Linked DNA regions of Homo sapiens: region 2 is reported to be linked to region 1. The links are microRNA targets in miRTarBase. Many come from high-throughput screens and were not tested one by one. Region 1 holds a microRNA gene; the other region holds the end of a gene's coding sequence.

Region 1 (5,073 bases):
TTAGGGTTTTGCAGCTTAGCTGCCCTTCTGAGGACTCCCCCACATGGTTTCCCTCCTCCTTTTTCATCTCTCTGCTTCTCCACCTCCCTACCCTGTTTGTCCTCAGGGTACAGAGGGGCTGCAGAGTTCAAGCCCTCAGTGTGCCCTCCTGCTGCTGCTGACAACAACCCTGTGGGGCTGGGATCACATTGTACTTCCTTGAAAAACTCACTGCACCCCGCCCTACTTTCTTGCAAGTGCTGATGTAAACATTTCTCTGCCAGAATCTGATAACATTCTAACACTGCCAGTACATAGATTAATGTCAACACTTTTGGTGATGCTCTAAATACAGATAAGCTAAAGTGGTTCAGCTAATGTCAGCATTCAAGGGCCTAAACTTCCCAAACTGACTACAGCTGCTCTAGAGCTTACTTACTACTGCTAGGAAAAAGCGTCATACCTCCCAGCAAACATAGATATTTTTCTTTTTCAGATAGTAAGATACAGGTTGAGTTGAGTATCCCTTATCTGAAATGCTTGAAACCAGAAGTGTTGCAGATTTCAATATTTTTCAGATTTTGGAATATTTGCATTACATTTAGTTGTTCAGCATCCCTAAGTCAAAAAATCTAAAATTGGAAATGCTCCAATGAGCGTCTCTTTTGAGCATCATGTTGGTACTTAAAAAGTTTTGGATTTTAGAGCATTTCAGATTTCAGCTTTCCAGAGTAGGGATACTCAACCTGTAATAATTTTAACCTTGGCTGACAGAATGCTCGGAGCTAAATTGTATGTTCCAACCTAAGAGTTATACTTCACTGATGTTTTCTGATATATCCATCTTTTCCCCTGGATAATTAACTCTTATTTTATTATCCTAATATATAGGTATTTTGTTGTAAGCCATGTGAAATCCTTATAGAAGTAAGCAGTGCGTGAGTAGAAAATGATGCGTGAATTATTAGAGGTGTCATTGCCCCATGAAAATATACAACCTATGTTGGTTATATAGTCGTTCCTGAACACAACATCTTTCAAGGCCAGGATTTCTAAAACTCATTACATGAGTAGTTGGTAGTTTCCATTCTCTTTTGTTTAATATTTCAGAGGATATGTAGTATTTTAGTGAGGAGGTTTTGGGTGCAGGGTACTAAAAACCTAATCCAATGCACAGGTTTGAACATTAGATGGGATTCACTAAGTTTTTGCGACACAAATGCTTGGTGGGCTCCAGGTGTGGTTTGATCAGGGTTCTGGTTCTGTCTTAACTTCTCTTAGTTTCTCTTGCCCTGTGTGGGCTTTGTCTTCAGGCTGGCTTTCCTCGGCAGGGCAGGCCTGCCAGTTGTCTCTGATGAAGACATACTCTCTCTGCAGGAGTTCATCCCTGAACAAAATACCACAGCAAGGGGAGTGGGGGATGCCCTGATTGGGCTAGACTGGTCAGGCCCGGGCTGATGCTGGGATGCACGGGGGAGTCAACCCCACACAAAACCCAGGTGCTTCACAGTGGGGGTGGGGTGGGGTGGCAGACAGGAAGGGAGGTTTATTCTCACTCCATTGACAAGGCTGATGAAAAGAACCACTAGGAGAAGAGCTACTATAAAACTCTGCACATATAATTATTAGGGATGAACAATGCCAGGTTGTGCTTGATGGGCCTTCTAAGTCCTTTTGGAGCCCTCTCACTTTCTGGTAAGCCTTTAGACAAAATCTGCTTTGCGATGCCTCTAGAATGGGGCAGGTGGAAAGCTTCCTGCAATTACATTCCTTTTATATAATGTTTCTCCACCAGAGGTTTGCAGTTTTATAGGATTCACCTGCCAATTGGCAACTGATTTGAGACACGTTAGTGCATCAGCAGAAGTGGGGGACATGCCGAGGGAGCAGCCTGGTGCTTGGCGGAATGTATCCTCTAATCACTTTTCGCCAGAAAGACCCTTAAAGCAATTATACGCTTCTGCAAAGAGAACTGGAAAAGGGTTCTGGATACTTTCTCCTCTTAATTAACCAAAGAATATGCCAATTCTTTTTAGAAAGTAAACTTTTTTCCCTAGTAACTATATTGTCCCATATCTGGTTATAATTTGTGTCTGAAGTAAGTAATTAATAGAGGACTGCCAGAATTTATGAGAATAAGAAACCCCATGAGTTCACGCGTGCACACACACACACTCAGAGGACATTGATATAGTTTGGATACTTGTGCCCTACAAATCTCACGTTGGAATGGCAACCCCAATGTTGGAGGTGGGCCTAGTGGGAGGTGTTTGCATCACAGGGGTGGATCCCTCTTGAGTGGCCTGGTGCCATCCTTGCAGTAATGAGGGAGTTCTTGCTCTACCAATTCGCCCAAGATCTGGTTATTTAAAAGAGCCTGAGACTTCCTTCTCTCTCTTGCTCCCTCTCTCACTACGTGATATACTGGCTCCCCTTCACCTGCTGCCATGATTGGAAGCTTCTGAGGCCCTATGCTTCCTGTATAGGCTGCAGAAGCATGAGCCAAATAAACCCCTGTTCTTTATAAATTACCCAGTTTCAGGTATTCCTTTATTGCAAAGTAAACAGTCTAAGAAAACTGCTGTTTTCTTTACTTGTAATGTGCTTTTCACTGCCTAGCTAAAAGGAGACAATGGCCTCTGTAAAGCACCTTGTCATGGACAAGTGATGCTGGCATATCATTATAATTGTGACCTATGAAATCTTTGCCTATTCTCAGGTTTCAAATATTTTTCTCCTGACAGTTCTATATAGTATACCCTGCTTATCTGCTGGGGACATATTCCAAGACCCCCCAGTGGATACCTGAAACCATGGATACTAAAGAACTGTATATATACTGTGTTGTTTTCCTATATGTATTATTATAAAGTTTAATTTATAAATTATATTATATTATATATAATATTATATTATTATAAAGTTTAATTTATAAATTAGGCACAGGAAGAGATTACAGCAAATTATAATAAAACAGACAATTATAATGATATGCCAGCACCACTATTCTTGCACACTGGGGCCATTACGAACTAAAATAAGGGTTACTTGAACATCAGCACTGTGATGTCACGGCAGTTGATCTGATAACCCAGATGGCTACTAAATGACCCATAGGCAGGTAGCATCTACAGTGTAGATCCACGAGACAAAGGGATGATTCACATCCTAGGAGGGACGGGACAGATGGCCTGAGATTTCATCATGCTACTCAGAACAGCACACAATTTAAAACGTATGAGTTGGCCAGGTGCAGTGGCTCACACCAGTAATCCCAGCACTTTGGGAGGCTGATGTGAGTAGACCACTTGAGCCCGGGAGTTCAAGACCAGCCTGGGCAACATGGCGAACTCCTATCTTTACAAAAAATACAAAAATTAACCAGGCGTGGTGGTGCATGTCTATAGTCCCAGATACTCAGGGGGCTGAGGTTGGAGGATTGCTTGAGCCTGAGAGACCAAGGCTGCAGTGAGCCAAGACTGCGCCATTGCACTCCAGCCTGGGTGACAGAGTGAGATTCTGTCTCAAAAAAATTTTTTTAAAAAGGGATGAATTATTTATTTCTAAAATTTCTCTTTTAGTTTTTTGGATGTGAGTGGATGATGAGCCACATGTCCCTTTGGTTGGCTGAGGGTAACTGAAACCATGGAAAGCAAAACTGTGGTTAAAGGGGGACTACTATAATTTTAGCTGTATTATGTTTAGGTCTATCATCCATATTGAATTAATTTTGTGCATGAGTTGAGATAGGAATTGAGATTCATTTTCTTCCCCATATGGATATCTATTTTTCCAGCATCATTTCTAGAAAAGCGCTTACTTTTCCCATTGGAGCTTCGGTGGCTTTGTCAGTCATTAAGTAACCTTATAGGTGTGAGTCTAGGTCTAGGCTGCCTGTTGTGTTTTATTCATGTATTTGCATAAACTTGCTTTGTGTACATTAGCTTGGCTACTGGAGCCTCAAACTCAGGTTGTGGAAGTCCTCATATTCTGTCTTGTCAGTATTAATTTAGAGATCCTAGGACCTTAGTATTTCCATATAAATGTCAGAATCAATATGTCAGTTTCTCTGAAAACTTGACCTAATTATCAGTCAGATTGCATTGAATCTATAGATCAATCTGAGGAGACTGTATATTATAAAAGCATTGGGTTTTTCAACTTATGAACATGAAATGCCTCTCCATGTATTTAGGTCTTCTAAATTCATAGTTTTCTGCATAGAGTTATTAAATACCTTTTGTTAACCTTATTTCTAAGTATTTAATGTTCTAGATATCATTATAAATAAAATTGGTTTTTAAACTTTTTTTTTGCTGGTAGTAAATCGAAATATAATTGATTTTTTCAGATTGATCTTGTATTCTGTGACCTTGCTATTTTTACATAAATTCCTCAGGATTCTCTTTGCAAACAATGATGTCATTTATACACAAAGGGAGTTTTACTTCTTAATTTTCAATCTTTATGCCTATTATTTCATTTTGTTTTATTTTACTGCCTAGGACCTCCAGTACAATGTTGAACAGAAGTGGTGACAGTAAACATTTTTAGCTTGTTCTTGATAATAAAAGAGGACAATATTTCACCATTATCATAAATGGCAGTTGAACTTAGGGAAATAATGTTTCTGCTTATGAAATGATTACATATTTGTCTTCTCTTTCGTTTTGTTAATATGGTGGATTACATTGACAATTTAATATGTTAAATCAACATTGCACTCTTGTGATACACCTACTTCTTCATGGAATATGAACTTTTGCATGTATTTTTGTATTTGATTTGCTAGTAGTTTGTTTAGGTTCATGAGGGATATTCTGTAGTTTTCTTTTATTGTAATATATTTGCTAGTTTTTTGGTATCAAATTTATATAGGCCTCATAAAAGTGATTCAGACAGTGTTCTCTTCTCTTGTGTTTTAGAAAGAGTTTGTCTATATTTGATGTCATTTCTTTCTCAAATGTTTGACAGAATCAACAAAGAAACTATCTGAGTCTAGAATTTTCTTTGTGTGAAGATTTTTGATAATACGTTCAATTTCTTTACTAAGTATAAGGCTAGTAACATTTTTTCATTGTGTGTTATTTTTAT
Region 2 (5,066 bases), not on the chromosome of region 1:
TCCCCTGAGAAAGAAATTCTTTGCTATGTAAAGTTAATGCTGGTGTTTTATGTGTTTTGACATTTTATTGAGTTAACTGTTTTTATATTTAAGCCCTTCATGTACTTACTCATTTTTTCTTCTGTGTAATAATCTATAGGGAAGGGAGCAAAACAAACCTGATTCTTCTCCTCTGTACATTCAGAATCCATTTGAAACTTCTCTCAACATAAGCAAAAATGTAAGTCAAAGCCAGCTGCAAAAATTTGTAGATTTGGCCCGAGAAAGTGCCTGGATTTTACAACAGGAAGATACAGATCGACCTTCCATATCAAGTAATCGGCCCTGGGGGCTGGTATCCCTATTGCTACCATCTGCTCCAAACAGAAAGTCCTTTACCAAGAAGAAAAGCAATAAGTTTGCAATTGAAACAGTCAAAAACTTGCTAGAATCTTTAAAAGGTAACAGAACAGAAAATTTCACAAAAACCAGTGGGAAGAGAACAATTAGTACTCAGACATGATGGCTGCTACATTGTGTAAAGAACTGGGCTTAGCCTATCAAATGGTCTGTGGACTTACTTGGAAAAACTGATTTGAAACTTTCACAGATCTCAGCTTTCATCTGATGTCACTTTTCATGATCTTCTCATTGGCCCCCTTAACCTGGTCTGAAGTTCTGGGATGTTTTCAGTTTGATCAGTCTGATACTCAGTGGCACTTTATTAAAACATCAGCTGTGGAGTGTGGCGGTGCACACCTGTAGTCCCAGCTGCTCAGGAGGCTGAGGCAGGAGGATCTCTTGAGCCCAGGATTTTGAATCCATCGTGGACAACATAGCAAGATTCCATCTCTAAAAAAAATGAAAATAAACATAAGCCACAAGGAATGGGTGAAAGATTATTGTAATGTGCTTTAACTAAATAGGTAAATATACTAAACAAATGCTAAAACTCAGTTTTAGGATGAAACCATTGTTGATATCCACATCAGTCCCTGTTTAGAAAACATTTAAAATGACTTTTAGTTATGTACAGTACGTTGGCAATGAATACATTAAGCTTCAAAATTTGGTAGTGCTCTCGAATATGTATATTTGTATTTTTCAAGCGAAGTTCTCTTATTCACATATAAATTAAAGTGGGTTGGTACTGATATCAAAAAATGTTTATGTTTTTAGAACAGACATTTCAGTCACTGCATTCTTAGGTATTCCAAACCAAATATGATGACATCAATAGATTGCATTTTAAAAATATTGTTTGATTTTTCTATTTTCAAAAATAAAATTCTGTTTCTAACTAAAATGTGATATTCCCAGTATTCCTTCACATCTCTTTTGAGAACTCCCCTCTTCCTGCAGGAAAGAGACATATTTGTCTCTCAGTATATGCAGAAAATTGGTTCCAGGACCATCCACGTACACCCAGATCTGCACACACTGAACTCCTTCAGTCCTGTGGAGCCCGTGCATGGGAGAATTCCACCTTGCACATAAGCAGATTTTGCATCCTGTGAAAGTACTGTATTTTCTTTCTTTCTTTTTTTTTTTTTTTTTTTTTTGAGACAGAGTCTCGCTCTGTCGCCCAGGCTAGAGTGCAGTGGCGCAATCTCGGCTCACTGCAAGCTCTGCCTCCCAGGTTCACGCCATTCTCCTGCCTCAGCCTCTCTGAGTAGCTGGGACTATAGGTGCCCGCCACCACGCCCGGACAATTTTTTTGTATTTTTAGTAGAGACAGGGTTTCACCATGGTCTCGATCTCCCGACCTCGTGATCAGCCCACCTCAACCTCCCAAAGTGCTGGGATTACAAGCGTGAGCCACCATGCCTGGCCGAGAATACTGTATTTTCAATCCAAGTTTGGTTGGAAAAAATCTGTGTGTAAATGGACTTCGCAGTTGAAACCCATGTTGTTCAATGGGCAACTGTATATTGAAATTTAATTTCCATTACATTCTCTGTGGAGCAACTTTTTTGCTTTGTTTCGTTTTGTTTCTGAGACGGAGTTTTGCTCTTGTTGCCCAGGCTGGGGTGCAATGGCACAATCTCAGCTCACTGCAACCTCCGCCTCCCGGATTCAAGTGATTCTCCTGCCTCAGCTGGGATTACAGGCGCCCACCACCAAGCCCAGCTAATTTTTGTAGTTTTAGTAGGGACAGGGTTTCACCATGTTGGCCAGGCTGATCTCGAACTCCTGACCTCAGGTGATCGCCCACCTTGGCCTTCCAAAGTGTTGGAATTACAGGCGTGAGCCACTGCACCTGGCTTCTGTGGAGTAACTTTCTATTTAAGAAGCAAGTAAGGCCTGGGCATAGCGGCACATGCCTGTAGTCCCAGGTACTTGGGAGGCCGAGGCACAAGGACTGCTTGAACCTGGGAGGCAGAGGCTGCAGTGAGCTGAGATCACAGCACTGTACTCCATCCTGGGCGACAGTGAGACTCTCTCAAAGGAAAAGAAGCAAGTAGTATAGTGTTTAAAAACAGACTTGAGCGAGACTGGCTCAATGACAAGTTACTCAGTCTCTTGGGGCCCCTGTTTGATCTGTAAAATGGGGATCATGATCAGATCAATGTGAGGATTAAGCGAGGGATGTAGGAAAATGCTAGGTCAGTGCATTTTCCTGGCGCGAAGTAAATGTTACTTCTCTTTAACTGTTGCCTTTCGGTGTTTGTGGTATGTAATTACCTTTTTTGCTACTCAAAATTCAGATTTAGAGTTTGTAGTACTTTAAAAATTTTTCCCATTTAAATTTTATGTCAGAAATTATAATGGGTTCTGCATGGGATATTTTAAGAAACTCAGCATTGTTATGAAGCAAATGAATTCTGTGTCCTTGTGTCTGTGCTATTGGATTGCACATTTGACACCAACAAATATCAGTGTTCTGTACAGGCGATGTCTTTAAAAGCCATTTTTCATTTGTTCTTTATTTTGTTGGGCTAGAAATCCATATTGATTTAAAAAGCTTAAAAAGCATAAACCACTTAAGGGTTTCTAAATGAAATTTTTTTTTCTGTTCACAGATATTTAGTCAGATATTTTCTTTTTTAGGTTGGTGCTAGGTGTAATATGGTTATTTAAGCACATAAAGTATGTGTATGGGTTAGCATTTTCTTTTCTTTTTGGTAATTTGTAGGACAGCCTTGACACTAGGCTGTTTTACTTTTCAGAATCAGATTTAATTATGTGATTAATTTTAAATCTACAAAGACTTGTTTTTTGTTTTTTTTTTTGAGAGCAAATCTTGCTCTGTCACCCAGGCTAGACTGCAGTGGTGCGATCTCGGCTCACTGCAACCTCTGCCTCCTGGGTTCAAGCGATACTCCTGCCCCAGCCTCCCAAGTAACTGGGATTACAGGCGCCTGCCACCATGCCTAGCTAATTTTTGTATGTTAGTAGAGACGGGGTTTCACCATGTTGGCCAGGCTGGTCTTGAATTCCTGACCTCAAGTGATCTACCTGTCTCAGCCTCTCAAAGTGCTGGGATTACAGGTTACAGGTGTGAGCCACCGCACCTGGCCTACAAAGACCCTTTTTTTTTTTTTTTTTTGAGATGGGTCTCCCTCTGTCACCCAGGCTGGAGAGTGCAGTGATCTTGGCTCACTGAAACCTCCACTTCCCGGGTTCAGGTGATTCTTCTGCCTCAGCCTCCTGAGTAGCTGGGATTACAGGTGCATGCCACCACACCTGGCTAAGTTTTCTATTTTTAGTAGAGATGGGGTTTTACTCTGTTGGCCAGGCTGGTCTCGAACTCCTGACCTCAGGTGACCTGCCCACCTCGCCCTCCCAAAATGCTGGGATTACAGGCATGAGCCACCACGCCTGGCTGCAAAGACCTTTTAATACACAGTTTTAAAGTCTGTTCAACTGAATATAGACTACAGACAAATATATTTTCTCATAACTTTAGTGTATCACAACCCAGATTTTTAAAATATTTTTATTACGTGATAGTGATAACTAGCAATTATTTGTCATTGCTGTTTCTTAATTAAAAATAATTGCAATGTTAAGTAAAACTTTTTTCAAGTTTTTTTCTTCTATAACTATTACTAGGCTTTCATTCAGTAGCTTTCACCTGTAATGAGTTTTACTAAGTATGTGAAAGTAATTTTGATAGGAGACTACCCAGATCAAAACGATTTCAGCTATAGCCCACTAGTATAATTCCTGGAGCTATTATCCATCTTTAGAAAATTTGAGAATTAGCCAGAGACTTTCTAGGAAATAACGATTAGCCTGAAACGTTATAGGAAAACTGTGTGTAATTATCTCATTCACCTTCAGTTACCATAAAGGAGAAGGGAAAATAAAGTTGAGTTGAAATAAGACTTTTTTCTGCTGTCATTTCCTATTGGCGTCTTTCTTTTGCTGTAGTCAGGTGTAGAGCTCTACTCAGGTGGCTTACGCTGTAGTCAGGTGAGAGCAGAATTAGATTGTTCCACCTCATTCCATGCTCCTAGGATTTCCTTGGCCTTCCAAGTACAGCCATATTCATCCCTTTAGAGCCTCCTGGTGCCGTGGTAGGGAAATGCTACATTTGCCTGTGTAAATAAGCAAACACTGAATATGTGCAGCAAAGCCAGAAGGAGCTTCCAAGCAGATGCATCTTGTTGAAGTAGCAACTCCACTTTGCAGAGTTTGACATTCAGTTGGTGAGTAGCTGTCATATGTTTGGAGAACTAGGGGTCCAGATTGGCTAGGATGTAGTTTTTAATGTGATACGCAGAAGTTAAGGTTGAGCAAGATGGGGAAGAACTGCCAATTTCAAGTTAAGGAGGTTGAGTATATCTTCATTGGTAAATCATTGATGATTTGTTGTTGTTGTTTTTGAGGCAGAGTCTAGCTCTGTTGCCCAGGCTGGAGTGCAGTGGTGCGATCTCAGCTCACTGCAACCTCTACCTCCTGGGTTCAAGCAATTCTCAGGCCTCAGCCTCCTGAATAGCTGGGATTACAGGCACACACCACCTCACCCAGCTAATTTTTGTATTTTTAGTGGAGATGGGGTTTTGCCATGCAGGCCAGGCTGGTCTCAAACTCCTGACCTCAGGTGATCTGCCTGCCTCAGCCCCTCAAAATGCTGGGAT

Evidence for each region. The annotated mature microRNA hsa-miR-3929 reads GAGGCUGAUGUGAGUAGACCACU and lies in region 1 at 3,266-3,288, shown strand. An mRNA with a match to its seed (bases 2 to 7 or 8) in the 3' UTR can be bound and repressed. Matches are read on the target gene's strand: a 7mer-m8 pairs with bases 2 to 8, a 7mer-A1 pairs with bases 2 to 7 and ends in A, and an 8mer does both.
Region 2: miRTarBase lists MTPAP as a target of hsa-miR-3929. Seed matches in the 3' UTR shown: 7mer-m8 at 1,639-1,645, 7mer-m8 at 3,444-3,450 and 7mer-m8 at 3,623-3,629.

Annotation. Positions count from the first base shown.
Region 1 is chr18:35,932,303-35,937,375 of GRCh38, reverse strand. It overlaps MIR3929 (microRNA 3929), which reads left to right and starts at 3,234; the gene lies at 3,234-3,288.
Region 2 is chr10:30,309,045-30,314,110 of GRCh38, reverse strand. MTPAP (mitochondrial poly(A) polymerase) reads left to right here. Exons shown (of 9, transcript NM_018109.4): 9 at 140-4,310. The coding sequence ends at 502. Among named protein-coding and RNA genes, the nearest start is that of MTPAP, 38 kb to the left of the region's middle.